Regions from separate parts of the Homo sapiens genome. Here regions 2, 3, 4, 5 and 6 are each linked to region 1. The links come from fine-mapping of genetic effects on gene expression. A gene starts in region 1. Each other region holds a variant in brackets. All regions are shown on one strand. Distances are from middle to middle.

Region 1 (5,024 bases):
AGGTATGGTGGCACATGTCTGTAATCCCAGCTACTCAGGAGTCTGAGGCAGGACAATCACTTGAACCCGGGAAGTGGAGGTTGCAGTGAGCTGAGATCACCCACTGCACTCCAGCCTGGGCAGCGGAGCAAGACTCTGTCTCAAAATAAATAAATAAATAAATATTTAAAAAAATTATCTGATCTCCCTTGTCTGATTGTAGGTCATAAGACCCCCATAAGAAGGGGTCCTGCCCATACCCTGGAGGAAGGAATGCTACAGAGAGAGGCCAAGAAAAATCTGAACAGATAGGCATTGCTGGGTTTCCCTACCCCATGCTTCAATTATGTCTACTCAATGAAGTCTCCATAAAAAGCCCAAGAAGATGGGGTAGGGAGAGCTTCTCAATATCTGAACACATGGAGGTTCCTGGAGGGTGGCATGCCCCTTCTCATACCTCACCCTGTGCATCTCTTCCTCTTGTATCCTCTGTAATATTCTTAATAATAAACTAGTAATAAACCTAAATAAGTGTTTTCTTGAGTTCCGTGAGCTGCTCTAGCAAGTTAACCAACCCAGAGGAGGGAGTTATGGGATTCCCAATTTATAGGTGGTTAGTCAGAAGCCGGGGTAAAACAATCTAGGACTTGTGATTGGCATCAGAAGTGAGGGCAGTCTTATGGGATCTGACACTATCCCCAGGTAAATAGTTTCAGAATCGAACTGTTAGATGCTCAGCTATTGCTTGATGCAGAACTGATGGGCCCACACATTTATTTGGTCACAGAAGTCCTCAGTGTTGACTGTAGTGGTGTGAGAGCAGAGGAAAAAGTTTGTGTTTTTTCTCTTACTCCTAATAGGATCTGGACTAGTAAGGGCAAATCTCTTCAGAACTCATTTTATAAGTTCTATCCATAAGTATTTCCATATTTATTAACTTTGTTATTATCTTTGTGAAAGTTGCAGATACCAGGTCAAAATCACTTTTTGTCAAACCCAAACAAACTAGAGAGCCTGAGGGAGAAAGCTCATGCTTGCAAGTCTGAGATAAAGATCGGTCTCAAGAAGGAACTAAAATAACCACCCAAGAAATTCTTTCTTTAGGAATGCAGTAATTCAGATAAGATAAGATAAGATAATCTTTTTTCCTTTTTTTTTTTTTTTTTTTTTTGAGACAGGGTTCTTGCTCTGTCACCCAGGCTGGAGTGTAGTGGTGCAAACACCACTCACCACAGCCTCCATCTCCTGGGCTCAAGCAATTCCCCTGCCTCAACCTCCCGACACACCTGACTATTTAAAAAGCTTTTTCTGTAAAGACAGCCATGTTGCTCAGGCTGGTCTCCAACTCTTGGCCTCAAGCGATCCTCCTGCCTAAGCCTCCTAAGTAGCTGAGATAACAGGCATGAGGCAGGTTGCCAGGCCTGATAAGATGCTCTCCATAACACCTGCCCAGTAATGGCATCTTCAACAATGGCCAACTCTGGCTTTCAGTCTGCAAAACCAATAAACTCTGTTTTCACGCAGCTTATCTGCACTTACTTTGCCAATAAAAGTTTCCTTTTACCCTCCCCTCTTCCATGCATATATGGCTTGCCAGGCCTGTGCACCTCGGGCTATAACGCTCATTTCTCATTCCCAAATAAATTCAACACATTTGGAGTGTTTTGTTGTTGTTGTTATTGTTAACATCTTAAAGGCCATTAGGGGCCCTAAAAACATCAAAGCTCACTTTAGCTAAAAGGCTCAATCTCACCTAACATTTTCTAATGCTGCAAACAGATTTAAGTTTTTAACCGCTGCCCCTGCCTCCACTCCTTTCAAATAGATGTGTGCAAATTAATTTGCAGCCAATAGGAATTTAGCCCAGAATGTGGTAGTATCATCCTCAGTGGAACCGACATTGTCCTTCTGGGTTTCCAAAGGCTTCTGCCTTCCTTTAAGAAACACTTGTCGCGCACCTACCAATAGCCAGACCCTAAATGCAGTCGAAAAATAAGGCCCTGAAAGGGGCACCCTCTAAATGGCAGAGGCAAGCCAGTAAACAACCAACTGGAATTCAAAGTGACAAGAGCCACTTGGAAATATGACAAAGTGCCAAGTGAAGGGGTGTTCACTTAATTCGGCCTGCGTGCGGGACGGCTGGGGCGCTTTGGAGAGTGGGAGTGATCTGAAAATGCTTTCCTGAGCTTGATTTAAAAGCAGGAGTCCAGGAATTTCCCCTAAGGCTGGAAGCACTTTCCGACAGAACCTCCCCATCTACGCAGCAAGGCTGGCAGAGCCCAGGGCCTGACCGCTGGCTTGGGAACCTCCGCTACGGGATGACCAGGCGCCGCGACGCGGCCGGGCCCAAGTCGCCCCCTCAGCCCGGCTCTGAGCACCCCCTCCTCTTTGTCCCCTCACCCCGTTCCCTCCTTCCACGGCCACCGATGGAGGGAAAGACTCCGCCCAGCTCTGGGAGCGAAACAGGGGCACCGATCTGGGCGCAAAATAGGATCCGTGCCACCCCCGAATACCAGTGGGCCGAGATTCGAGGCCCGAAAGGCCTGGGGAGGCGGGGCGGCGCCCCTCCCTGCCCGCGGCCTCGGCGAGCCCTGCGCGGCGGGGCGGGGACCACCGTGGGGTCACCCGGGCCCGACGCAGGAGGACGGCGCCCCCGCCCCGCCTCCCGGGTCAGCGCGGACGCACGCCGCGGGCGCCCCATCCTCGCCGCGGCCCCTCTGAGCGCCCGGCGGCGCCCTCCACCTCCGGCTCCCACCCACTCCAGGCGGGCGGGCGGGGAGAGCGCGGGGGCAGGGCAGGCAGGCCCGGGAAGCCCCGAGGGAGCTGCCCCCGGCCGGCCTCCAGGCGCGGGGACACCCAGGGGCGAGCGCGCACTGCACAGCCGGGACCTCACGCTTTACCTGGTGCGCTGGAGGAGCAGGTGGGAGCCCGGGTCGGGCGGGCTCGGTGTCGGCCCTGCCTCACCTGGGCGGAAGTGAGAGGCCCAGGGTGACCGCGCCTCACCTGGCAGGCCCTCCCCTCGCCCCGACTCTCCCCGCCCGGGGCGGGGCACCGGGGTGGCGCAGGGGGCGGGGGAGGGAGCCCGGGGCCGCGGGAGGCGGGCTCCAAGGAGGGAGGACGGTTGCCCTGGCTGTTTACGTGCAGGTGAATTCCTACCGGGCGCGGGATGGCCAAGGGCCTGGGAAAAGTGGGCTGTGGGGGCGGGGTGGCGGATCAGACCGCGCGTGGTGGGGACAGCCGCCACTGACGGGGAGGGAGATCCGGACAGACCGGTGTGGTTGGAGGCCTGCGTGTAGAGCGAGACCCAAGATCAAGGAAATTGAGGAGGATATCGATGAAAGCGTTGGGTCAATCCGCTTAACACTTTGTCTTTTTGCCCCTTTCCTTTCCTGTTCTCTCATCCCTCCTTTGTTTTCTCTATTCGCTGACGCAAAATAAAATATTCTAAAACGTGTAAATGTGGGAGTCATTATTTTCTTCTCATTTAGTGGAAGAAAGAAATCCAGCAGTATTTGCCTGCTGTATGCTAGGTGCTAGCTTATGCAATGTCTCATTTACTCTCTGAAGAAACTAATGAGGAAACCGTGCACCCTGTAGGTTGACTGGCCCAAAGTTTGGAACACAGGCAAGGCATTTTGACTCTAACTACAGTGATGATTTCACTATACGTTAATTTTCTTTTATTTGTGATGTCACACCTTCGAGAAAAATATGTCCCGATAGCCTTCTTCCACTCCCTTTAATAACTTTAGGCTTTTGATGATAGGGGTTTTACTTTGCCTGATACAGTCCACACATTAACGATAAAGAGAATCAATCTTCAGGTATCTTATTCATAGAGTACATACAGTAATTGTTAAACACTGTGATTGATTGTGGGAAGATGTGTAAAATGGTATCCCTGTCCCCAGGAAGATGAGGAATAGATACAAAACAACTACAACATAAAGACTTTCAGGCGGGGCGCGGTGGCTCACGCTTGTAATCCCAGTACTTTGGAAGGCCGAGGCGGGTGGATCACCCGAGGTCAGGAGTTCGAGACCAGCCTGACCAATATGATGAAACCCCGTCTCTACTACAAATACAAAAATTAGCCGGGTGTGGTGGATGCGTAGTCCCCTCTACGCAGGAGGCTGAGGCAGGAGAATCACTTGAACCCAGGAGGCAGAGGTTGCAGTGAGCCAAGATCCTGCCACTGCACTCCAGCCTGGGTGACAGAGAGAGACCCCGCCTCAAAAACAACAACAACAACAACAACAACAATTAGCCCGGAGTGGTGCCGTGAGCTTGTAGTCCCAGCTACTCTGTGGGGCTGAAGTCGGAGGATCACTTGAGCCCAGGGGTTCAAGACCAGCCTGGGCGACAGAGCAAGACTCCATCTCAAATAAATAAATAAATAAATAAAATTAAGATCATGCACTTGGTGCTTTGTAGTTTGCTTCCTTGTTTTAAAAGAAATGTAACACTTGTTAGTCATGGTAAGAAGACACACAATATCAGCATGGTTTCTGCTTTTTAGGAACTAACAAACTACTGAGGGAAATAACAGGCAAATTGCCAGATGGAAGCCAGACCTCAGAAAATGAAGAGATCTATTATGTTTTTTGAAAGCATGGGTTAGAACTTAAACAGGTCTTAACCAGAGTCTGAGATTAATTTAGGTAAAATGGAGAAGGAAAGGCTTTCCAAGTCGGGGGCAAAATAAAGTTGGAGATTGAGTGGGAAAAGGGAGAGGATTGAAAAACTACCTATCAGGTACTATACTTATTGCCTGGGTGATGAAATAATCTGTATATCAAACCCCATGGCCTACAATTTGTCTATGTAACAAACCTGGTTTTTTTGTTGTTGTTGTTGTTTTGAGACAGAGTCTCGCTCTGTTGCCCAGGCTGGAGTGCAGTGGCACAGTCAGCTCACTGCAACCTCTGCCTCCCTGTTCAAGCCATTCTCCTGCCTCAGCCTCCTGAGTAGCTGGGATTACAGGTGCCAGCCACCACACCCGGCTAATTTTTTGTATTTTTAGTAGACATGGGGTTTCACCACGT
Region 2 (5,024 bases), 390 kb before region 1:
TCATCCGAGGAAGAGGAGACTGTGAACCTGAAGGAAGAGGTGGAGAAAATCCCCCCACCTGAGGAGGAGACTATGGACCTGAAGGAAGAGAAGGAGGAGATCCCCCCACCTGAGGTGAGGGAGGCCACTGGCCTGAAGAAAAAGCAGGAAGAAATCCTCCCACCAGAGGACGGGGAGGCTGCAGCCTTGTCCTCTGCGCCTACGGAACAGTTAGAGACGTTTGCATCTGTGGAAGAACAGACAAGCCTGCTTCCCTCTCAATCTGTGTTCCCCCCACAAACTGCTATCCCCCCTCATTCTGTGTTCCCCCCTCCAGAGGTATTTCCCCCTCAGGCCTCTGTCCCCCCTCACTCTGTGTCCCCCCCTCCGGAGGCATTTCCCCCTCAGGCCTCTGTCCCCCCTCACTCTGTGTTCCCCCCTCCAGAGGCATTTCCCCCTCAGACTGCTGTGCCCCCTCACTCTGTGTTCCCCCCTCCAGAGGCATTTCCCCCTCAGGCTGCTGTGCCCCCTCACTCTGTGTTCCCCCCTCCAGAGGCATTTACCCCTCAGGCTGCTGTTCCCCCTCATTCTATGTTCCCCCCTCCGACGAAACTCACTTATTCCATGTTTCCTTCTGCCAATGGGTTTCCCCCTCACTGTTTCTCCAACAGGGTTCTCCCTCTGATGTGAATTTCCTTAATTTGTGCCACCTTCCCCACTGTTTTCCTTTAAGAAGATATTTATTTTCATGTACTCTCTTGTGCTTTGCCTCCATGTTGCATTTAATAACTTAGGGTAAAAGGAACATTAAACTTAATTAGAACTATATGTTCTACAGTGAAATATTGTGTATTTATTAAGCTTTCGAAATGAGTAATAAAGTAGAGGTCTTTACTGCATGGACCTAGGTTGAGTATCTTTCTTTAAAAACAGGTTTAGGTATTATGTTTTGGAGAATTGAGAAGTCAAAATAATTTCCAGATAAGAAAGATATTACAATGCATAAAAGCTTGAGCTCCTTGCTTAGAACTCTCCTAAAGGTTCCTGCGAAAGAAGATGATTAGCCCTTAGACTTATTAGGACCCAAGCCTTTCAGTACCAAATCTGAAATTTAGCACTGGCTGGGTGTGGCGGCTCATGCCTGTAATCCCAGCACTTTGGGAGGCTGAGGTTGGAGGATTGCTTGAGCCTGGCAGATCAAGGCTGCTGTGAGCCATGATTGTGCCACTGCACTCCAGCCTGGGGGACAGAGTGAGACCCTGTCTCAAAAAAACAACACACCACACACACACACAGACACACACACACACACACACACACACAGACACACACACACACACGCAAAACATAAAAATCCTCAGCACTTACATGCAGCTGGACCCTCAAACTATGGGTGCACACATGTTGAAAACAAACAGGAAGGCTGTAAAGTTAAGGTGATCCCTGAGAAAGCTGGCATCTTAAGATGGGGACACATTACAGAAAAACACACACACACACACACACACACAAGAAAAGCCCATGCCTGGCCTTTGGTGTAACTTACTGAAATAGAAAGCACAGCTGCTTAAAGTTTTTGTCCAGAATCTAGTGACCCTGATTTTAGTGACACCAGAATATATTGATTTTTATGTGTCTGTTAAAAATTTAATGATCGGGCTGGGCGTGGCGGCTCACACCTGTAATCCCAGCACTTTGGGAGGCCGAGATGGGCGGATCACTTGAGGTCAGGAGTTCAAAACCAGCCTGACCAACATGGAGAAACCCCATCTCTACAAAAAACACAAAATTAGCCGGGCGTGGCGGTGTGAGCCTGTAATCCCAGCTCAGCTACTCAGGAGGCTGAGGCAGGAGAATTGCTTAAACCCAGGAGGCAGAGGTTGCAGTGAGCTGAGATTGCACCATTGCATTCCAGTCTGGGTAACAAGAGCGAAACTCTGTCTCAAAAAAAAAAAAAAAAAAAAAAAAAAAAATCTAATGGTCTGAAGAAGTGTGAAGCACTTGGAGTAAAATTCGAAAAGGGCAAACTGACTTCCAGCCACATTGCCACCTAGTGGCACACACCTCAAATGCCACCTGGAAAACCACTCCACTTCCAGGATTTTATAAAGGAATTTTAGTATCCTCTAACTTCAAGCCTATGTTAGTACAATGAAAGTAATAAGATACCACTTAGTATTTATCATTTGCAACATCCTGTATTTATTAGACACTTTACATCACACTTCATCTAATCCTCAGAGCAACCTTTTTAAGAAAGGAGCTCCACAGTCCCTGTTTTAGAGGAATAGAAGGTGAGACTTTAGTAAAAGGATTCAAACTCACGACTTTCTGACACTACAGCCTACCTCTCCTACCTAACTTGGGCTAGGTGTTCATTTCAACTTTCAAACCTTGGGTCTTTGTCCTTTTCCTGCAGTTTATCACTGTCTTCATGGCATTAATTTGGCTTTTTTTTTTTTTTTTTTTTTTTGAGACGGAGTCTCGCTCTGTCACCCAGGATGGAGTGCAGTGGCGCGATCTCATCTCATTGCAACCTCTGCCTCCCGAGTTCAAGCAATTCTCCTGCCTCAGCCTCCTGAGTAGCTGGGATTACAGGTATGCATTACCATGCCTGGCTTATTTTTGTATTTTTAGTAGAGGGGGTTTCACCACGTTGGCCAGGCTGGTCTTGAACTCCTGACCTGAAGCGATCCCCCCCACCTCGGCCTCCCAAAGTGCTGGGATTACAGGCGTGAGCCACC[A/G]CACCTGGCCTAAGCATTAGTTGGCTTTTTATTTGCAAACCCTGGAGACTACTTTTCTTACCCCTGGCTGCATATTAGAATCACCTGAGAAATTTTAAAATCATCTGATGTCCATGCCATATCCCAGAAAAATTAAATCTGAACCTCTGGGGTGGGGCCCAGGAACAGGTATTAAAATCAGTGATTTTATTATGCAACTAAGGTAAAGACCTAATAGCAGATCATTCCTTTAGTGATACTCACATAGGCCATGACGCGCCTGCTCTGCACCCTCAATGACACACCTTTTCCATTTCCAACCCTGGGTAAGCCATCCGTCTTCCTCCCCTCCTGGAATTTTTCTGGACTACATTGGTAACTGTGCTGATTTGTTCCCCTATTAGTTCATGTCCTTCAGCTTGATTGGAATGGCTCAGCAACTCCATGTGGGCAGCACTGAGGAGGTATCTGCTCTGGGCGAGGCCTGCGCCCGAGGCACAGACACAGATTTCTCCAGCTTTGGAGAACCATGGTCTGGAAGGACATCAACACCCAGGCACTCCCTATTCTTCGATGGAGAGTTTCTAAACAAAGGATTTTCCAATATTTATAAAGAAAAGAGGCCGGGCGTGGTGGCTCACACCAGTAATCCCAGCACTTTGGGAGGCTGAGGCGGGCGGATCACCTAAGGTCAGGAGTTTGAGACCAGGCTGACCAACATGGTGAAACCCCGTCTCTACTAAAAATACAAAATTAGCTGGGCGTGGTGGCACATGCCTGTAATCCCAGCTACTCGGGAGGCTGAGGCAGGAGAATCGCTTGAACCTGGGAGATGGAAGTTGCAGCGAGCCAGGATCACGCCATTGCACTCCAGCCTGGGCAACAAGAGCAAAACTCAGTCTCAAAAAGTAAAAAGAAAAAAAAAAAAAAAAAAAGAGAGGGCTGGGTGCGATGGCTCACACCTGTAATCCCAGCACTTTGGGAGGCTGAGGTGGGACAGTCTCTTGAGTGCAGGCCAATAATGAGACCTTGTCTCTCTCTTAAAAAAAAAAAAAAAAAAAGACGAGAGTACGGTGAGAAGGGTGTTTCAGATGAAGAGAATAACGTGGGGAGACCTTTTTCATCCCTAAATAATGCTCTACTCCACTGGGTCTGAGGCATGGGATCTGAATTAGCAGCATCACCAATACCTAGGAGCTTGTTAGAAGAAATGCAAAATTGGCTGGGCACGGTGGCTCACACCTGTAATCTCAGCACTGTGGGAGGCCAAGGCAGGCGGATCACCTGAGGTCAGGAGTTTGAGACCAGCCTGGCCAACATGGTGAAACCCTGTCTCTACTAAAATACAAAAATTAGCCGGGCATGGTGGTGGGTGCCTGTGGTCCCAGCTACTGGGGAGGCTGATGCAGGAGAATTGCTTGAACCCAGGAGGTGGAGGCTCAGTGGAGCCGAGATTGTGCCACTGCACTCCAGCCTGGGCTTCAGAGCGCAACTCTGTCTCAAAAAAAAAAAAAAAAAAAGCAAATTCTTGAATCCCACTCCACTCCTGCAAAATCAGAAAGGCTGGGGGAGCCCTCCAGGTGTTTCCAGAGCGTGCTAAAGTTTGAGAAGCACCATTCTACTCAAATCTGTTTAGCTGCTTTTCAAACAGACCTATATTCTTGGTTCTTTTCTATTCTTTTTTCTCGAGACGGTGTCTCACTCTCGACTAGGCTGGACAGCAGTGGTGCAATCTCGGCTACTGCAACCTCTACTCTCCGGGTTCAAGCTGTTCTCCTGCCTCAGCCTCCCAAGTAGCTGGGACTACAGGCATGTGCCAACACACCCGGCTAATTTTTGTATTTTCAGTAGAGATGGGATTTCACCATGTTGGCCAGGCTGGTCTCAAACTCCTGACCTCAGGTGATCCACCTGCCTTGGCCTCCCAAAATGCTGGGATTACAGGTATGAGCCACCACGCCTGGCCATATTCTATTTTTTCTAAATATTTCTTTTTTGTGTGTACATAATAAAAAATGAAATAGTACAGTACATGATAAAAAAAATTCAACACTTGCCCTCCCTAGAAGCACATTGAACTTTTCTCTTTTTAATTCTAAAGAATAAGCTAAATAATATTCTTATATGCCTATTTTGAAATGTACTATCTTGGTGTCCACTGACTCCCTACTCTAAGAGATGAAAATTTAGCTCGCCAAACTCTTCCACTTAACTGTTACATCATTTCTAAGTTCTACTTGTTTCCTGTGTTTTAAAAATCTACTCAATCCTCTGTAGTTCTAATACTTTCCAACAACTTTTTACCTCAATTAAAAAAAAATC
Region 3 (5,024 bases), 130 kb before region 1:
TAAAAATACAAAAAAATTAGCCGGGTGTGGTGGCACACGCCTGTAATCCCAGCTACTCAGGAGGCTGAGGCAGGAGAATCACTTGAACCTGGGAGGAGGAAGTTGTAGTGAGCCGAGATTGTGCCACTGCACTCCAGCATGGGTGACACAGTGAGACTCCGTCTCAAAAAAAAAAAAAATCCATAAGTTCATAGTATATTTGGGGTACTTGCCTTAGTAGAAAATCATAAATGACCTCTGACTAAGCAATGTAGATACTCTTTTAAAACTTTTTTTTTTTTTTTAAATAGAGATGGGGTCTCCCTATGTTGCCCAGGCTGGTCTCGAACTCCTGGACTCAAGTGATCCTCCTGCCTTGGCCTCCCAAAGTGCTAGAATTGCAGGTGTGAGCCACCACACCCAGCCTAAAACTTTTCCTATAATCATCACTGAAACTCTTTCCATGCATTCATCTTGAACAAATTTTCTGGTAAACTCACTACCACTTCTGCTTTTTATTTCATCTAGAAACTTTGGAATCAGGGTCCAATCAGTTGGCAATGTTGCAGATATGGGGTGAAAATACTGTCATGCTCAGGTGGGATTAACGGAAGTCTCAGTTACCTTTCCCCCATCCCCATACTCCCCTTTGCTCCCATCCTTGAGGGCCTCCATTCCCATATGACAATCAAAGCACTGCCCCACTGTTCCAGCTTTGCTGATGTCTGCCTCCCCCTCACTGAGGACACTGAGGAGGAAGGACCAGGGCAGGACTGGTGCTCAGGCAGGAATGGCTTAAAACCAGAGTTTTCAGAACAGGAAACTGGTTCTCTATGTCCCATCCAGCTACACTGGAAAAAGCAGTCTGTTAAACTACACCACTAAGTTGCATAGGTTGGTGCAGTTTAAAACTTCATGAATTGCTCCACACAAAGGCTACCTGTGCCCTCTGCCCCACTGCCTCCTCCATGGACCCTGTCAGTGCACAGGCACACATTTCTAACCTGTCACAGCGCTTCACGCAGTTACACTTTACAGAGCTGTCCACCAAGTGCACAGAGAAACCCAGGAGCCCATGAAAAAGATTGAGTCCTGTAGGGCCTCTGTAATCAGGTAATGGTCATAACAGGGGTACAGAGGTTAGAAAAACAGGGAGATTTTTAAAAAATAAATGCTCTAGGATTTAAGTTGTATTAATCCACTCTCACACTGCCATAAAGAACTACCGGAGACTGGGTAATTTATAAAGAAAACATGTTTAATTGACTCACAGTTCCACAGGCTGTACGAGAGGCATGGCTAGGAAGGCCTCAGGAAACTTACAATCATGGCAGAAGAGTGAAGGGGAAGCACGCATGTCTTCATATGGCAGTAGGAGAGAAAGCATGCGCAAAGGGGGAAGTGCCACACACTTTTAAACCATCAGATCTCTTGAAAATTCACTCACTATCATGAGAACAGATGGAGGAAATCTGCTCTCATGATAAAATCACCTCCTACCAAGTCCCTTCCCCAATACTAGGAATTATGATTCAACATGAGATTTGAGTGGGGACACAGAGCCAAACCATATCAGAAGTTAATGCTTATAGGAGAGGAATGGAGGAAATTTTCTAAAGGTCTACATTTGATGAGATGCAAGAATGGAATAACAAAATAAAGGCAAGCAGAATCCAAAGTAGAGAAGAGATCGGGTTACTATACAACTTAGCAACTGAAAAAAAAAAAAGTAATGAACTGATATGCTGTTGAATAACCACGTGAGCAGTACATCATTTCCTCATTCAGTAAATATTTCTTGAGCACCTACTATGTGAATATAATCAGATACAGTCCTCACCCTCCTGAAGCTTAGTGTGTAGTTAAGAGACAGGCCTGCAAGTAAGCATGTGCACTGAGTCTTGACAATAACACAAAATCAATTTGGATTTGCAAATGGCACAACCCAGTCTTCGAGCAAAGCCTGGGAAACAGAACTGCCTTCTGTCTGAAATCTTCCAAAATCTTGTAACACTAAGTGTATTACTCAATGCAATAATGTCAATAATTACATTATTAATTATGCAAATTTAAATGCTTAGTTTTATAACCCATGAAGAGTATATGCTTTTCAAAGATACACAATTTTGGATTAACCAAAAGGTCAAGAATATCTCTTTACACAGGGGTTCTCAACAATGATTTCTAAATTCATTGTTCTGCAGATAAATCTAAGATTGCCTCTTATTCCACTGCTCCTCCACCCAAACACCAGCCCATATAGCTAGTCTATTTCTTTTGATCTTGACAGTATAAACCAGTGGTTTATACAGTATACATGTGGCCACATCTGGAGACATTTTGATTTTCATCATTACTGGGAGAGGGTGTGCCACTGGCATCTAGGGTTAGAAGACAGGGACGCTGCTAAGCATCCTACAATGCACAGGATACCCCACCCCCACCAAAAGACTCATCTGGTCCAAAATCGTGCTAAGTTTGCTACAGTATTAATAGTAATGAAACAGATATGGTCTATTTATTCATTTACTCAAACATTTGTGCTATAAATCTTCTCCAACTATTTAATAGAGAACTATAAGAAATGTGGTGAATTTTAGAAAGCAATATACCTGGAGAGTTTTATTTTGGGAAGTCCCATTTTTCTTCTAGTCATGATCTTGAAAACTTGGGTAGATTCATCTAATCTTAGATATTTAAAATTAAGTATTCATACTCTGTCTTTTTTTTTCCATGCTCTGTTTTGACCCACAGGAAACTGTATGTTATCATCTCAGAGACGCCTTCAATTTTTA[C/T]CCTTAAGTATTCCATTTTTTAGAATTTACTTAATAGAATCCTAATCTCATATAAAACTGTTACATCACTTTCTACAGCCCTCTCTCCCCTTACAACATATTACTATACAACACAGAGAAAGACTTTTAAGTAGTCATAACAAGTGAAGGACAGCATAAATCCTCAACAATGGCTCTATAAATCCCAGTGCTATGAAAGCATTTAACAATCTCCCTAGGGATGTCAATTTTATAATGACATTCAATATTTTAGTGTTAGATGAAGAAAAATTCTTTTTTAAAGTCAACTTTTCAAACATATATAAGAATCGATATTGAGGGGCAGCAGGGAGAGGCACTATACTTTTAGAATTCTTTAATGGAAACTAAGTTATTAATGTACTAAAATTGACTGTAATATATGGCTATAAAAATGTTTCATAAATGTTTAAAATATGCCTCTCTTTATTAATATTTAACAGTCCCATTAAATGAGCTAGCAATATTACTTAAGAGCATCAGAGATTTTAATATATATTAGTAGAGACTTATTTCAGATTTGGTGTAAGGTTCTAGTCTGAGTTTCAATCCATACTGCTAATAAAATGCAACATGAGGCAGAGAAAATGTAGCCTTCTCAAAAAACAGAATCTGAAAACTCTAAGTTGAAATCTGAGGCATGTTTATTCTTTCAGGTAATTCTGAAGCAGATTAATTATTAAGCAGACATAAATTCAAAGCATCATAATGAATAAAAATATGACGGTGAAATTCATGTATACAAACATAAAACTGAAAGCTTGCAAAATAATGTAATTTGTGTTTATGAGAAACAAAAGTCACAAACCTAAATCCAGACTAGTTTTTGCTAATGAATTAAGATTTTCCAGGTCGTCAAATCTGCCTTGTTGACTGTTTCCTTCAGTTGATGGTACAGATGGTAGGGACTCCATGACAAAATTTTCTTTCATCTTGAGAGGAAGAAAAATAGAAATGCATTAGTACTTTATGAAAAAAATGTATTACTGTACAGTTGATCAAGCCAAGTAATAATGATAGTGGAAAACTGGCCTTGCAAACAGGCATTCTCAAGTAATGGTTTATACTGTGGTAAGCAGTAACAAATGCTGGTAACAATATCTGCAAGAGTATAGGCTAACAAAATCTGTTTATTCTAAAACTTGGATTTTTAACCAAAAAAACTGTTTTATAAGCATTAATAAGTGGATTTAAATAAACATTTACCAAGGTAGAGGAATAAAAGATCTATCAAGTCAAGCAAGGTCAACTGCTGATACACACAGCCTCCTGGATTGTGTTGCTCTGATATCTACAAATAAATAGCTTCCTTGCTGACTCCAAAATATGTGATAAATTTTCATATCTATAAGCGTTTGTTAGCACTCTTATCTGCCTGGTGAATACCTAAGTTATCAAACCTAAAACCTAAAACCTACAGATAAGTGCTGTTGATAACTTAACTGCATTTTCCTCCCATCTTGCTTTTATATACATGTTTTTTATGGTTTTCCAAAGTCACAATCTTCCAGAATGCTAAAATATTTATGTTTCCCCTGACCCTGCAAATTCATATGTTAAAATCCTAACCCCCAAGGTGAAGATATTTAGAAGTGGGGACTTTTGTGGGGTGATAGAGTTATGAGGGCAGAGCCCTGGTGAATGGGATTAGTAGTGCCTTTATAAAATAGGCCCAAGGGGCTGGGTGTGGTGGCTCACACCTGTAATCCCAACACTTTGGGAGGCCAAGGCAGGTGGATCACTTGAACCAGGCATTTGAGACCAGCCCAGCCAACATGGGGAAACCCTGTCTCTACTAAAAATACAAAAATTAGCCAGGCATGGTGGTGCATGGCTGTAATCCCAGCTACTTGGGAGGCTGAGGAGAACCACTTGAATCTGGGAGGCAGAAGTTGCAGTGAGCTGAGAACAGGCCATTGCACTCTAGCCTGAGTGACAGAGAGACACTGTCTCAAAAATAAATAAATAAATAAATAAATAAATAAATAAATAAATAAATAAAATAGGCCCAAGGGAGCTCATTCCACTCTTCCACCCTGTGAGGACACAGCTAAAGGATGACATTTATGAACCAGAAAGGGGGCCCTCACTGATGCAGAATTTTTGCTCCTTAACTCAGCTAATCTGGGTTCTTGTCTCATGATCAGGAAGAATTAGGCACACGGACACACTGAAGAGTGAGGAGGGTGGAATTTTTAAGCAAAAAGAAAGCTCTCAGCAAAGAGAGGGGGT
Region 4 (5,024 bases), 310 kb before region 1:
CCACTGCACTCCAGCCCAGGTGACAGAGTGAGACTTAAAAAAAACAAAGTGTAGTAACCTCCAATTTGAGCCCTGGCTTCAATGGGTGATTTTTTATTTTTGAGATGGAGTTTTGCTCTTTCACTCAGGCTGGAGTAAAGTGGTGTGATATTGGCTCACTGCAACCTCCGCCCCTGGGGTTCAAGTGATTCTCCTACCTCAGCCTCCCAAGTAGCTGGGATTACAGGCATCCAACACCACGCCCAGCCAATTTTTGTATTTTTAATAGGAACGGGGTTTCGCCATGTTGGCCAGGTTGGTCTCGAAGTCCTGACCTCAGGTGATCCACCAGCCTCGGCCACAACTTTTTTTTTTGAGATAAGGTCTTACTCTGTCACCCAGGCTGGGGTGCAGGGGCGTGGTCATAGCTCACTGCAGCCTCAAACTCCTGGCCTCAATTAATCCTCCCACTTCAGCCTCCTGAGTAGCTGGGATTACAAACTGGAGCCACTGTGCTTGGCTCCAAGGCAATTTATTTAACATTTCAGTGCTTTATCTCTTACATGGAAATGATACTACTATATAACTACTATTGTTATGTGAATAAGTTAGCATGTGTTAAAGAGCTTAGAATAATATATTAACTATGATGGTGAACTTTAGGTATCCATCTGAGTGGATTAAGGGATATCTAGCTAGCTGGTAAAACACTATTTCTGGGTGTGTCTGGAAGGGTGTTTCCAGAAATGATGGGCATTTGAAGCAGTGGACCAAGCAAGGAAGACCTACCCTCATCCAGTTTGGGCAAGGCACCATCCAATTGGCGGAGGGCCAGGTAGAACAAAAAGGCAGAGGAAAGGTGAATTCGCTCTTTTCTGAAGCTGGGACACCATTTTCTCCTGCCCCTGGACATCAGAACTCCATGTTCTCCAGCCTTTGGACTGCAGAGCTTTTATCAGCAGCCCCCTGGTTCTCAGGTCTTCACACTTTAACTGAATTTGCTCCTGGCTCCCCTGGTTCTCCAGTTTGCAGACAGCCTATTGTGGGACCTCTCAGGCTCCATAACACGTGAGACGATTCCCTTAATAAATCCCTTCTCAGATATCCATATATCCTATTGGTTCTGTCTCTTCGGAGAACCCTAATACATTAGTAATTGTGCTTTTCAGGTTGAAAAAGTCACTTCAATTTTTCAAGTTATATCTTAATGCTTCACTTGGAATAGTTGTTCCTTCTATGGCTACCCCTTAATGCTTTAATCAGAATGACAGCATCATCCTCATTAACAACAATTCACTCTTTGACAGTGACTACAGCGCACTCTGGTATGGATTAAGTAGTACTTTACTGTTATCAACTCATTTAATTTTTCCTCCCATTTTACAGAGGCATAAACTGAATCACAGAGAGGTTAAGTCATTTCTCTAAGGTTATAATTGTTAGCGAATAGCGGAACCAGGATTTGAACCCAAGTAGTCTAGCTCCAGTGATTGCACTCTTACTAATTTAATTATACCACTTCAAAAGAGCATATTATATGAACATAGATATTCTGAACATTATAAGCACACAAGTTTATACCCAAAAGATTAAAGTAATTATTTTAGGGATCTTGAGCTCCGATGTCAGCAAGCTACCAGGACATCATGAGGCTTTCTGAATGAGTTCCACTTCTCCCAATTTCCAGTTTTTTGATCTTACACTGAGCAGATAAAGTCTCATCTATAAATCTGGGATAAATAATTCTTCTCCTTCTCTTTACATATGGTTATTTTGGGGATAAGATTAAGATCACAAACCAACTAAACACCATTTTAGAAAAAAACTTAAATTTTTTTTTCTTTTTTTTGAGACACAGTCTCGCTCTGTTGCCAGGCTGGAGTGCAATGGTGCGATCTCAGCTCACTGCAACCTCCGCCTCCCAGATTCAAGCGATTCTCCTGCCTCAGCCTCCCAAGTAGCTGGGACTACAGGCACCCGCCACCATGCCCAGCTAATTTTTGTATTTTTCGTAGAGATGGGGTTTCACCATGTTGGCCAGGCTGGTCTCGATCTCTTGACCTCTTGATCTCCCCGCCTCGGCATCCCAAAGTGCTGGGATTATAGGCATGAATCACCGTACCCCGCGAAAAAACTTAAATATTAAAAAAATTAAGCCAATGAGATTATAGATGAAACTGTTTTGCAAATTGGAAAGCTCTGTGCAAGTACTTTCATTCAAGTTCTTTTCAAAAGGCTTCTAACAGGCTCTCATCTAGACTTCTGAAATAGATACCAGACACTTCCCTGCCTCCAGTCTCTCACAATCAGAATCTATGTTTCACAAACCATCAACTGATCTACAAAAAAGTTATTTCCCCCTTTAAAAATATTTTAAAGAAATGGAATACCTTCTGAAATTATTATAAACTCCTTGGCTATGCATCTAGGGCTACTGAGACACAGTCCAAAGCCAACCAACTGAATATACTGAAAATAGCACTGGAGTATGCATAGGCCACGGCTTAGCCTCAGCTCTGAAAATAACTTTTTTTTTTTTGGACACAGGGTTTCACTCTGTCACCCAGGCTGGAGTGCAGTGGCACAATCACAGCTTACTGCCACCTCAACCTCCCAGGTCCAAGTAATCCTCCCACTTCAGCCTCTTGAGTAGCTGAGACTACAGGTGCTTGTCACCACACTCAGCTAATTTCTTCTTTTTTTTTTTTTTTAAATAAAAATGGGGCCCACAATGTTGC[C/T]TAGGCTGGTCTGGAACTAGGCTTGTCTTGAATTAATACTTCATTACAAGACAATGACATTTATGTATATGTTAGGTTGAACCATATGAAATTTTTACCTACCAAAATGGCAATTTCATATGATTCAATCCAACATTTTGCTAATTGATGTACTGTCTATCTTCCTTCCCCCTCCAACTGTGGAATGAGTCCATGAGGGAAGGCATTTTTGTACATTTTGTTCACTGCGGTATCTTCAGTACCTGGAACATAGTGGTATTTGGCAAATATTTGTTGAATGAATGAAATGAATTTACTAAGCTCTATTTGCCCTATATTCTTCTGTGTGATTTATATTTTATAGCCCCTTTGTTTCCTAATAGCATCCTAATTACCGTCATTCCTCAGCTGAGGAAACTGAGGTTTGGTGAGGTCAAGTGACTTCTTCAAGACACTTTTTTTTTTTTAGACGGAATTTCGCTCTTCTTGCCCAGGCTAGAGTGCAATGGCGCGATCTCGGCTCACTGCAACCTCCATCTCCCAGGTTCAAGCGATTCTCCTGCCTCAGCCTCCCAAGTAGCTGGGATTACAGGCATGCGCCATCATGCCTGGCTAATTTTGTATTTTTAGTAGAGACGGGGTTTCTCCATGTTGGTCAGGCTGGTCTTGAACTCCCAACCTCAGGTGATCCTCCTGTCTTGGCCTCCCACAGTGCTGGGATTACAGGCGTGAGCCACTGTGCCCGGCCAGACACTCTTAAATAATACTTTATGCCAGGCCATTTATATTTATGCTATAAAAGTTGTCCAAATTCAGGCTATCTTTCCTTTCTGAACTAGAACATGCAGAGATTCTACTGCAAACAGTGATTAAGAAACTCCAGAACCAAAAGGACAGATGGTGGGTAAGGAAGGGAACAGAGTGGAAAAAGACAGACACTAGTCAATGGGTATGGGAAAGCCTTCAATTGTTGGTGAAGTGCAGTATGAAACATTATCTAAAAATGACCCTCAGGCCTCCAGGCCCTCTGCCTCTTCAACTGTCTTGACACCTGCAGCCCTGTCACTGGTGTTGCTTACTTGGGAACTGGGAGTGGATGATGGATGGCTTTTACCTTTGGCCTGCACATGAGCCTGGCTGGGACTACCAGATTCTTCCAGCAAGCAAGAGAGTATTCTCACTCTTTTTACCATTTCCTCTGTGGATGAAATTGGGGATGCCTACCTACAAAATTCTGTTGCTTTAAAAGACTTTCCCCTAACCTGACTATGGAGATATAGTGCCAAACAGAACAAGTTAACATATTTTTAAGTAAAGGGGCTTTCGGTTTGAAATTTGTTGCTGTTCCTCATTTCCCTGTAGTGCAAAAATGCACTCTACCTTTTGGAAAGGGAAATCATAATTTTTTACTGCCATTATTCTTTTTTCTTTTTTTTTTTTGAGACGGAGGTTCACTCTTGTTGCCCAAACTGGAGTGCAATGGCGTGATCTTGGCTCACCGCAACCTCTGCCTCCCCCTGGGTTCAAGCGATTCTCCTGCCTCGGCCTCCCGAGTAGCTGGGATTAGAGTCATGCACCACCACGCCCAGCTAATTTTTGTATTTTCAGTAGAGACGGGGTTTCTCCATGTTGGTCAGGCTGGTCTTGAACTCCTGACTTCAGGTGATCTGCCCGCCTTGGCCTCCCAAAGTGCTGGGATTATAGGCTTGAGTCACTGTGCCCGGTCATTTTTTTTTTTTTTTTTTTAGTCAATCTCTGGTAAATAAACTGCTAGTACTCTTCATGCCAGGGGTCTCAGGTCCCATGTAGGGTTTATTCATGAGTGGCCCATTACAATTTCCACTCTTGCTGAAACATTCTTTCCCTTCAGCCAGAATAAGCTCACTTTCTAGGATATGCAATCTGTGGCAGTCGCAAGATATATTTTCCAAAACCTGAAAGAGGATAAATGGATGATTTCTCAAATGCCCTGAAGTAAAATGAACAACTCTGGGCTGTCATAAAATCAGAGTTAGATGACACTCCTAAGTGATTAATTCTTTGAGATTTGTAGGACATTTTTAAACACAGAGGGGAAAAAAGCCTACATTTCTTCTAGAATTTGTAGTCTAACCCTGGAAGTGCTGGGCTACAAAACAGAAAAGCAGATGATGAGCCAAGGCATGGGAGTCAGAGGGTAGGGCAGCCATCTCCCAGCCTATCACATACTGGCTGGGGGCCTTTGGCAAGTTAGTTAACTTCTCTAACTCTCAGTTTCCTCACGTGTAGGAAAATCAAAGAACAGGAAATGCATGCAGAACACAGCACAGTGTCTGATATGCAACAAAT
Region 5 (5,024 bases), 380 kb before region 1:
TTTGTAGAGACGGGATCTTGCTATGGCCTAGGCTGGTCTTGTACTGCTGGCCTCAAGTGATCCTCCTGCTTCAGCCTCCCAAAGTGCTGGGACTATAGGTGTGAGCCACTGCACTCAGCCCAAACTTCTTATTTTAAGGCTAGAATGATGAGTGGCTGGCTGGCCCTCTCTCTAAGGTAGTAAGTGGTGGGCTTTATTCTTTATACCTATAAACTAATTTATTTTATTTTATTTTTGAGACAGTCTCACTCTGTCACCCAGGCTGGAGTACAGTGGAGCAATCTTGGCTCACTGCAACCTCCTTCTCCCAGGTCCAAGTGATTCTCCTGCCTCATCCTCCTGTAGCTGAGATTACAGGCACCCACCACCATGCCTGGCTAATTTTTGTACTTTTAGCAGAGACGGGGTTTCACCATGTTGTCCAGGCTGGTCTCGAACTCCTGACCTCAGGTGATCCGCCCACCTCAGCCTCCCAAAGTGCTAGGATTACAGGCGTGGGCCACCGCGCCTAGCCACCTATAAACCACTTTATATTACCTCTGCAGACCTATGGTAAGCATACATTTCTGGGGAAACTCATTAATGAAACTCACTGCCAGTATGCTGCCTCTCAGTCACTGCATGGTGTCAATCTCAGAGACATCTGAAGGGCTAAAATATAAGCAGGGGTAATTAACAGCACACTTTGCTTTTACATCCTGGTATATTTCCTTGTGCCTCTGAACAATACAGCTGGGGACCACAGCTGATAAACAATTGTCTGCCTTGGTTGATGACTGCTACGCGTGACAATTTAACAGTGTTGGCAATCTATGCTAAAGGAAAAAGACCATTGTATTTTTCCTCTTCCTTTAAGGGGAAAAGAAGAAACAGCACTTGGGCAGTTCAGTAACAGTCTTTGGGCATAAGAAAAGAAATCATTTCTTATTCCTTACAAATTCTGATTTACAAAAGAACACTGGAAACTAAAAGCTGTGTTGATTTATCATGTGAAGCAGAGAGTAATTTTTCTCCCCTTGTTATGCTTTCATATAATCATGCTCACTACCTGTATGGGTGGCATTAAAGAATTTCTGAATAAAAATAATAATTTCTTGCTTTCAACCTTCGTAATTCACATCAGCAAGCACCCTGCTGGGTGGCGATGTCTACTGCCAGTGACGCTCAATCTTTTTTGCATGCCACTTATCTGCCTTGCACAGCTGCGTGCTCCGTTGATCGCAATACCTGCAGGATAATGCGCCCGTAGGCGTTCTTCAGCAGATTAACCACATCCGCGTGAGACAGCCCATCCAAAGGTTGCCCGTTAATGCTGACAATCCGATCTCCAACCTGGAAGTACAAAAATGACAGAAAATCACTATCATTAAGAAAAATTAAATTTGAGAAGAATGCTTAAAATTCTTTGCGAGTCCTATTTCCCATTTGTGGCTATTGTGAGGATTCTGCGTTACTACCGTGCATGCATGTTCAAGAAGCATGAGGAATTTTTTTGGCTTTCCCCAAATACAGACAAATCAGAGCAACAAGAAGGGGGTCACATTTGATTATTAAAAGGCACAGTAGGCCATTTTTGTATTTTGGTAATGGTGGTGTTTCATACAACCATTTGCCAGTAAAAGCGAAGTGTACACATCAACCGTTCAATAAAGTTCTAATGAGGAAGCCAAATATTTTCTGCTATATTTTTCTACTGAAGTTAAGATTAAGGGGCAACAAGGGGGAGAAATCATAAAAATGGTGATTCTTTTGATTGAGGGAAGACTCTAAGGTCAAATGTCTCTCAGTTGAGAGCTGATTTTGGGTGGAATGAGGTGCTTAAAAGGGTAAAGGAGGGTTTGCAAAGGGGCTGCAATTTCTTCTTTTATGGAGAAGCTTTGATACAAATAATAATATTTTTATGTGCCTGGGGACCTAATGAATTTCTAAAGGTATCAAGTTTATCTAATGCATCTTGCCCTCAGCCTGGGTCTCTGATGGCTACTGGAATTCCAACTTTAAACAAGGTGCCCAGGGCTGCAACTTCCTCTCCCACCCCAACACATATTGTTAGTCTTTCAACCAGTTCTCTCGTTTACTTTAAGCTTCTGTGTCCGTGCGGCCACTCCGCTAGCCTGAATCATGGCAATAAATACGGGGATATCTCCTAAGGGACTTCCTCTTCCTCCAGCAATACTGATTCCAAGGGCATCACTGAGCTCCTAAAAAAGGAAGAAAACATAATGCTTTTATATTTAATAAAGAGCCACAAACTGACTATCCCTAGATAGATAGCTGTTGGAACAAAATCCCTCCATGAGGTAGGAGGCCAGGATAACATAGGAGTTAAATGTGGAACCTTTGGAGTAGACAGCTCTAGCTCTTTTTTTTTCAGTTTCGCTCTTGTTATCCAGGCTGGAGTGCAATGGCACGATCTCAGGTCACTGCAACTTCCGCCTCCCAGGTTCAAGCGATTTTCCTGCCTCAGCCTCCTGAGTAGCTAGGATTACAAGTGCGCGCCACCACACTTGGCTAATTTTTTGTATTTTTAGTAGAGACAGGGCTTCACCATGTTGGCCAGGCAGGTCTCCAACTCCTGACCTCAGGTGATCCACCCGCCTTGGCCTCTCAGAGTGCTGGGATTACAGACGTGAACTACCCTACCCAGCCCCAGCTCTAGCTCTTAATTAGCTGTGGGGTCTTGGGGGAAGTTACTTAACCTTGTGAAAGTTGTCAGAATCAAAATGGAGTCATTTGTGTCAAAAAAAAAAAAAAATTCCTTACCAATAGAGCCCGGAAAGGCTATGAAGAAAGAGTTCTCAGGCTTGTATGCCTGATAACAAAAATTATCACAAA[A/G]GACTGCAAAAACCACAACCCTGCAGGAAGGACATCACAACCTTTCATAAAAAAATACTTCTACAAGTGCATCTGTCCAGCAGATGCCTGTCCAGCCTTGGGCTGTGTGTCACCCCTGTTATTAATCTTTGTAGCCAAGGATAATTATCTCAAAATAATTATATATTTCTCATTTTGTCCTCTAAAACCTTTTATTTTCCTTACCTCCCTGAATATGCACATAGTCTACTATGGCCCGCATATTCCCATTCCTGAATAAACTGGCCCGCATATTCCCATTCCTGAATAAACATCATTTTCCTTTAGAGAGCCTCTCTGTTTGTTATTTAGGCTGACTACCTCTTAAAGCCTCCATCTCTATGTATAAAATGAGAAGAATACTACATACCTGACAGTGTTGGTCTGAGCATTAAATGAGATAGTATGGCACTGTCATGGCCTACAGAAAAGGCTCAATAAAAGGCAATAGCAGGAGTAAATTAAACACACACACACACACACAACACCCTATGCAGCTCCTTAGTTTAGTGGCCAATTCCGATGCAGACTTGGCAAGTATGTTCTCATATGGTGTTTATGATTAAACTGCCACACATACTATGCTCTTCTGGGTGTGAACAAACACATTTGGCTTTAAAAGACTGCGTTAAAACAAAGGATCTGAGAGGACACCCACTGTAGTGACAACAGTTTGAAGACAGACATAAAATGTGGCTGAAAATGTTCCCCAAGACGGACTCTGGTGAAGAGACTTGGCTCTAGTCCAGTTTTTTCCCCACATTAGTATCATAGGGTTAATATTTTTAAAATCACTAAAAGAACAAATGACAAGTTCCAGTTCTGGCATGGCAGCACAGGCACGTGACAGCGTATCTCTCCTGCTGGTTACAATCAAGATGTCTAGTCAAAATGTAAAAAACAACTACCTGTGGCCTCTGAAACAAAAAGAAACCAAATAAAGTATGGTGGAGAGTCAAAACTTGGAGAAATGGCAGCAGCAGGGGAAGTTCCCAGTTTTATTTTTTTTCCTGGCAGCTGTACCCTGAAGGTGATTCCCAGTCAAGGAGCTGGAAAGGTACGGTGAATGCTAACATTCAGATAGAAATTCCATCCTTCTGGGCAGAAGAATCAAGAAAGAGGGAAAGAGAAGAAAAGCAGAGAAGAGGAAGCTGAAGAAAACGAATCCTCAATTCTGTTTGTGAACCCACAGAACTCTCAGGCTGCTTATGTGTGAGACAGACCCAAACCAGCATAGCAGAAGTTTAGAGGCTGGGTGTGGTGGCTCACTCCTGTAATCCCAGCATTTTGGGAGGATGAGGTGGGTGGAACACTCGAGGTCAGGAGTTTGAGACCAGCCAGGCCAGCATGGCGAAACCCTGTCTCTACTGAAAATACAAAAAATTAGCTGGATGTGGTGGCACGCACCTGTAATCCCAATTACCTGGGAGGCTGAGGGAGGAGAATGACTTGAACCTGGGAGGTGGAGGTTTCAGTGAGCCGAGATTGCACCACTGCACTCCAGCCTGGGTAACAGAGTGAGACTCTGTCTCAGGAAAAAAAAAGAAAGAAATTTATGCTTGGATCACGTGTGGTAGAATAGGGTAGGTAGGAGCAGGCTTTATTACAAAAGCCTGTAAAAACAAGTGGCTGAAATGACTAAGGAAATATAAAAGAATATTATTTTTGAAATCTTAGAGGAGAAATTTATGCAATAATGTTTTGGCTTTGTTTAAATCCATCATGATGTTTCCTTAATTTATCTATAATTATATATACTGTTGGTACATTTAACTTCCCCATCATAGGAACATTTGAGTTGCTACTCTGGTGGAAAAATACCGGGAACAAATAAGGCAGATTTAGTCAAAGCTGTAGCTAATAACAACAGAAGCCACTTCCTGGGCATTCCTGATGCACTAGGTGCTATGCTAAAGACATTACATTCATGACCTCATGTAATCCACACAATAATATTTACCTTTGAGGTGAGTTAGTGTTATCACCCCCATTCTACAGATGAGAAAATTGAGGTTGAGTTGCTAACTATTATAGAGCTAATGGCGTTTTTTTTTTGTTTTTTTTTGTTTTTTTTTTTTTTTTTGAGACAGGGTTTTACTCTGTCACCCAGGCTGGAGTGCAGTGGCATGATCACGGCTCACTGCAGCCTCAACCTCCTGAGCTCAAGCGAT
Region 6 (5,024 bases), 430 kb before region 1:
GGGAGGCTGAGGCCCCTGAGGTCGGGAGTTCGAGACCAGCCTGACCAACATGGAGAAACCCTATCTCTACTAAAAATACAAAATTAGCCGGGCATGGTGGTGCATGCCTGTAATCCCAGCTACTCGGGAGGCTGAGGCAGGAGAATCGCTTGAACCCAGGAGGCGGAGGTTGCAGTGAGCAGAAGTCGTGCCATTGCACTTCAGCGTAGGCAACAAGAGCGAAAGACTCCATCTCAAAAAAAAAAAAAAAAAAAGCAAAAAGGTCTTATAGGGAAAAGAGAGATCAGACTGTTAGTGTGTCTATGTAGAAAGGGAAGATATAAGAAATTTCATTTTGACCTTACCCTGAACAATTGCTTTGCCCTGAGATGCTGTTAATCTGTAACTTTGCCCCAACCTTAAGCTCACAAAAACCTGTGTTGTATGAAATCAAGGTTTAAGGGATCTAGGGCTGTGCAGAATGTGCCTTGTTAACAAAATGTTTACAAGCAGTATGCTTGGTAAAAGTCATCGCCATTCTCTAGTCTCGATAAACCAGGGGCACAATGCACTGCGGAAAGCCGCAGAGACCTCTGCCCTGGAAGGTTGGGTATTGTCCAAGGTTTCTCCCCATGTGATAGTCTGAAATATGGCCTCGTGGGATGAGAAAGATCTGACCATCCCCCAGCCCGACACTCGTAAAGGGTCTGTGCTGAGGTGGATTAGTAAAAGAGGAAAGCCTCTTATAGTTGAGATAGAGGAAGGCCACTGTCTCCTGCCTTTTCCCTGGGAACTGAATGTCTCGGTATAAAACCCGATGGTACATTTGTTCAATTCTGAGATAGGAGAAAAACCACCCTATGGCGGGAAGCGAGACATGTTGGCAGCAATGCTGCTTTGTTATTCTTTACTCCACTGAGATGTTTGGGCAGAGGGAAACATCAATCTAGCCTACTTGCACATCCAGGCATAGTACCTCCCTTTGAACTTAATTATGACACAGATTCTTCTGCTCACATGTTTTGTTGCTGACCTTCTCCCTATTATCACCCTGCTCTCCTACCACATTCTTCTTGCTGAGATAGTGAAAATAATAATCAATAAAAACTGAGGGAACTCAGAGACCGGTGCCGGTGCAGGTCTTTGGTATGCTGAGCGCCGGTCCCCTGGGCTCACTTTTCTTTCTCTATACTTTGACTCTGTGTCTTACTTTTCTCAGTCTCTCGTCCCACCCAACTAGAAATACCCACAGGTGTGGAGGGACTGGCCACCCCTTCAAGTCTGAATGTTGTTTGCCTGGGAGTGAAATTTCCTGTAACTCCTTGAGGAGCTTTAAAAAAAAAAATACCGGTTCTTAGATTTCTCCCTTTCTCCCCCTACTCTGGGGTGTGCTTGGGCATTGAGCCTTTAAAATATCCCCAGGTGATTTGAATGAATAGCCCAGGTTAAGAACCACTGCCCTAAAAAGAGCAGCAGGTTTGTGCTATTTCTTTTTTTTTTTTTTGAGACCGAGTCTCACTCTGTCATCCAGGCTGGAGTGCAGTGGTGCAATCTCAGCTCACTGGAACCTCTGCCTTCCGGGTTCAAGATCCTCCTGCCTCAGCTTCCCGAATAGCTGGGATTTACAGGCGCCCCCAAGCCCGGCTAATTTTTGTATTTTTAGTACAGACGAGGTTTCACCATGTTGGCCTGGCGGGTCTGAAACTCCTGACCTCAAGTGATCCACCCGCCTCGGCCCCAAAGTGCTGAGATTACAGGCATGAGCCACCGCACCCTGTCAGGTTTGTGCTTTTTGGACAGGTGGGGCTGTGTGTTGTACCTGTCTGCTAACAAATGTTCATACACCTGGGCATGGTGGCTCATAACTGTAATCCTGGCACTTTGGGAGGTTGAGTGGGAGGATCGCTTGAGGCCAGGAGTTTTAGACCAGCCTGAGCAACATAGTAAGACCTCGTCTCTACAAAAAATTTTAAAAAGCCCACTGTGGTGGTGTGTACCTGTAGTCCTAGCTACTCAGCAGGCTGAGGCAGGAGTGTTATTTGAGCCAAGGAGGTCGAGGGTGCAATGAATCCTAGTCTCACCACTGCACACTAGCCTGGGTGGCAGAGTGAGACCCTGTTTTAATAAAAAAAAAAGAAAGAAGTTCAGTCTGGGTGTGCTGGCTCACGCCTGTAATCCCAGCACTTTGGGAGGCTGATGTAGGAAGATCACTGGAGCCCAGGAGTTCAAGACCAGCCTGAGCAACATGGCGAAATCCTGTCTCTACTAAAAGTACAAAAAATTTGGTGGGTGTGGTGGCATGCACTTGTAGTTCCAGCTACTGGGGAGGCTGAGGTGGGAGGATCACCTAAGCCTGGGAGGTCAAGGCTGTGGTGAGCCATGATCGCGCCACTGCACTCCAGCCCAAGCAATAGAGTGAGACCCTGTCTCAAGAAAAAAAAAAAGTTCGTACAGGTGCAGACTCAGTCTGAGACTGGTTCTAACAGGTAAAATACCTCCAGTGGCAAGGCAGCAAGGAAGGAGCCTTGTGTTTCTTTCTGCCTTTAGCCACTGGAGGCAGAAAAGAACTCGGCAATTTGTGAATGACCACAGACTGGAAAAAAAGGGGAGTGTTCTCCAGGCTTTCAAAGTTTAGTGTTTAGAATCACCAGAAGAGCTTGTTAAAACTCAGATTTTTTGGCCCTACCCCAGAGATTCTGATGCAGTTGGTCTAGGCTAGGGCATACATTTGCACCTCTCCTAGGTGATGCTGATGATGGTGGTCTGCAGTCACATCTTGAGCAGCAGTGCTGTCTATGCCAATGGATAGTGTGCGCAAAGGCCTAAGGGTGTGAGAGTCCGGCTT[A/G]TCCTGGGATAAGTGCTTAGTGAGACGAGAGTTAACACGACTGCTGGAGGTTAAGGTGGAAGCTAAATTATGAAGAGCCTAACATCCATGCTGAGTTTAGACTTGACCCTGAGTCCACTGAGAAGCCACCTAATTAGGTATACAAATACTTAGGGTCCTTGGGTGGTGGGGTGGCAGAGGCAAGATCTCAAGCCATCTGCTCCTGAGGGTTCTGGGATGGTAGAAGTGATGATGGTGACTGCACCACAGTTGTGGACACCAGAGGGGGCGGGAGGCTGGAAAGGGGTTGTAAACAAGGATAGTGGACACTTCTGCACTTTCCCTAAGGCAAGGCCGTCCCTAGAGGGGTCTGTTCAAGGTCTCATGATGTCTGATGCTTGATCTGTGAATTTGGAGGGTGTTTTTGGATGAGATCAATGTTCCTTTTTTTGTTTGCTTTGTTTGTTGTTGAGATAGGGTCTCGATCTTTCTCCCAGGCTGGGGTACAGTGGCGCCATCTCAGATCACTGCAGCTTCTGCCTCCTGGGCTCAAGTGATCCTCCCACCCTCAGCCTCTGGAGTAGCTGGGACTTCGGGCACGTGCCACCATGCCCAGCTGTGAAACATTCTTCACAGAAAATTATCTTCTGGGTCTTGAGCCTGCTGGCCCACAGTGTAGATTTTGGACTTGCCCACATCCGTAACTGCAAAAGCTAATTCCTTATGATAAATCTTTCTGAATACATACAAATCCTCTCGGTTCAGTTTCTCTGGAGAACACTAACTAATACAATGTTGGACAGGAAGTTTCTGCTCTCAGTCTTTAAGAACAGGTGAATCTTATTCCTCATGGCATGGGGGCCACTGGAGTATGTTTCTTTTCTTTTTGGGGGGAGTGGGAGAGGAGGAACAGGGTCTCACTCTGTTGCCCAGGCTGGAGTGCAGTGTGTGATCATCGCTTACTGCAGCCTCGACTTCCAGGCTCAAGCGATCCTCTCACCTCAGCCTCCAAAGTAGGTGGGGCTGCAGGTGCGTGCCACTGTGCCAGGCTGATTTTTTAAGTAATTTATTATTTTTCAGATAGGGGCCTTACTGTGTCACCCAGGCTGTAGTGCACGATCAAGGCTCACTGCAGCCTCAATATCCCTGGGCTGAGGTGATTCTACCACCTTAGCCTCCGGAGTAGCTGGGACTACAGGTGTGCCACCAGGCCCAGCTCATTTTTGTGTTTTTTGTAGAGACAGGGTCTTGCCATGTTGCCTAAGCTGGTCTCAAACTCCTGTGCTCAAGCAATCCGTCCACCTCAGTCTCCCAAAGTGTTGGGATTACACATGTGAGCTACTGAGCCCAGCCTAATTTACTTTTTGTGGAGATCAGGTCTCACTATGTTGCCCTAGCTGATCTCGAACTCCTGGGTTCAAGTGATCCTCCACTTTAGCCTCCCTGGACTGTTTTCAGACAGCTATCCTGAAGTTCCCCAAAGAGTAACACATGGCTCTGGGGTTGAGAGGAGTTGAATGATGGAGTCCCTTTAAGACATTACCGTTTCTTCTGTTCTCCTGGGAGAGTAATGCTGGGGGCATGCCCAGTAAAGCCATTAGGCAGGAGGAGCCATTGAAACACCTCATCTGTCATCAACTATGTCTATCTAGAGAAGAAGAAGGTTTAAACCATGAGGGGGGAGGGTATCCAGAGTGCCTGGCCTTGGAAATTCTTCCCAGGATGTGGAGATATACGGTGAGTGGATAGACTAGGTCTTCTTTGTCTACATCCAAAAGATGTGTCCTTTTTTCATTTGTTTGTTTTCTTCTACTCTTTATTTTAATCTTTTTTAAATCTTGTGCTTGTATTGTGGAACCAAATCTTGTGGTTGTGTTGAGGGAAAACTGAAATAAACTTACAAATTCAGGCTGTGCACACACATGTTTATAGTGGCTTTATTCCTAATTGCCAAAACTTGGAAGCAACCAAAATGTTCTTTAGTAGGTAAATGGATAAACTGTGGTACATCCACACAACGGAGTATAACTCAGTGCTAAAAAGAAATCAGCTATCAAGTCATGAAAAGACATGGAAGACGGGCTGGGTGCCGTGACTCACGCCTGTAATCCCAGCATTTTGGGAGGCCGAGGCAGGTGGATCACCTGAGGCCAGGAGTTCATCACCAGCCTGGCCAACATGGCAAAACTCCGTCTCTACTAGAAATACAAAAATTAGTTGG

What was found. PIP is the estimated chance that this variant, and not a neighbour inherited with it, causes the effect.
Region 2: its variant is the best candidate, but not a certain one, in a credible set for the expression of PATJ in T cells (TOPMed, PIP 0.90).
Region 3: its variant is the best candidate, but not a certain one, in a credible set for the expression of PATJ in whole blood (INTERVAL, PIP 0.77).
Region 4: its variant is the best candidate, but not a certain one, in a credible set for the expression of PATJ in testis (GTEx, PIP 0.62).
Region 5: its variant is the best candidate, but not a certain one, in a credible set for the expression of PATJ in blood mononuclear cells (TOPMed, PIP 0.69).
Region 6: its variant is the best candidate, but not a certain one, in a credible set for the expression of PATJ in lung (TOPMed, PIP 0.58).

What each region holds. Positions count from the first base shown.
Region 1 is chr1:61,740,411-61,745,434 of GRCh38, reverse strand. It overlaps PATJ (PATJ crumbs cell polarity complex component), which reads right to left and starts at 2,955. Exons shown (of 44, transcript NM_001350145.3): 1 at 2,880-2,955. It overlaps PATJ-DT (PATJ divergent transcript), which reads left to right and starts at 2,651. Exons shown (of 1, transcript NR_185910.1): 1 at 2,651-3,437. RefSeq lists a silencer at 2,494-3,203.
Region 2 is chr1:62,132,944-62,137,967 of GRCh38, reverse strand. All of the region lies in intron 41 of PATJ (PATJ crumbs cell polarity complex component), which reads right to left. Among named protein-coding and RNA genes, the nearest start is that of MIR3116-2, 57 kb to the right of the region's middle. The variant A/G (reference allele first, on the strand shown) is at 2,724.
Region 3 is chr1:61,873,943-61,878,966 of GRCh38, reverse strand. It overlaps PATJ (PATJ crumbs cell polarity complex component), which reads right to left. Exons shown (of 44, transcript NM_001350145.3): 21 at 3,601-3,724. Among named protein-coding and RNA genes, the nearest start is that of MIR12132, 30 kb to the right of the region's middle. The variant C/T (reference allele first, on the strand shown) is at 2,775.
Region 4 is chr1:62,051,858-62,056,881 of GRCh38, reverse strand. All of the region lies in intron 31 of PATJ (PATJ crumbs cell polarity complex component), which reads right to left. Among named protein-coding and RNA genes, the nearest start is that of MIR3116-1, 24 kb to the left of the region's middle. The variant C/T (reference allele first, on the strand shown) is at 2,718.
Region 5 is chr1:62,125,149-62,130,172 of GRCh38, reverse strand. It overlaps PATJ (PATJ crumbs cell polarity complex component), which reads right to left. Exons shown (of 44, transcript NM_001350145.3): 40 at 2,079-2,201; 41 at 1,228-1,332. Among named protein-coding and RNA genes, the nearest start is that of MIR3116-2, 49 kb to the right of the region's middle. The variant A/G (reference allele first, on the strand shown) is at 2,836.
Region 6 is chr1:62,167,210-62,172,233 of GRCh38, reverse strand. No RefSeq gene overlaps it. Among named protein-coding and RNA genes, the nearest start is that of L1TD1, 25 kb to the left of the region's middle. The variant A/G (reference allele first, on the strand shown) is at 2,825.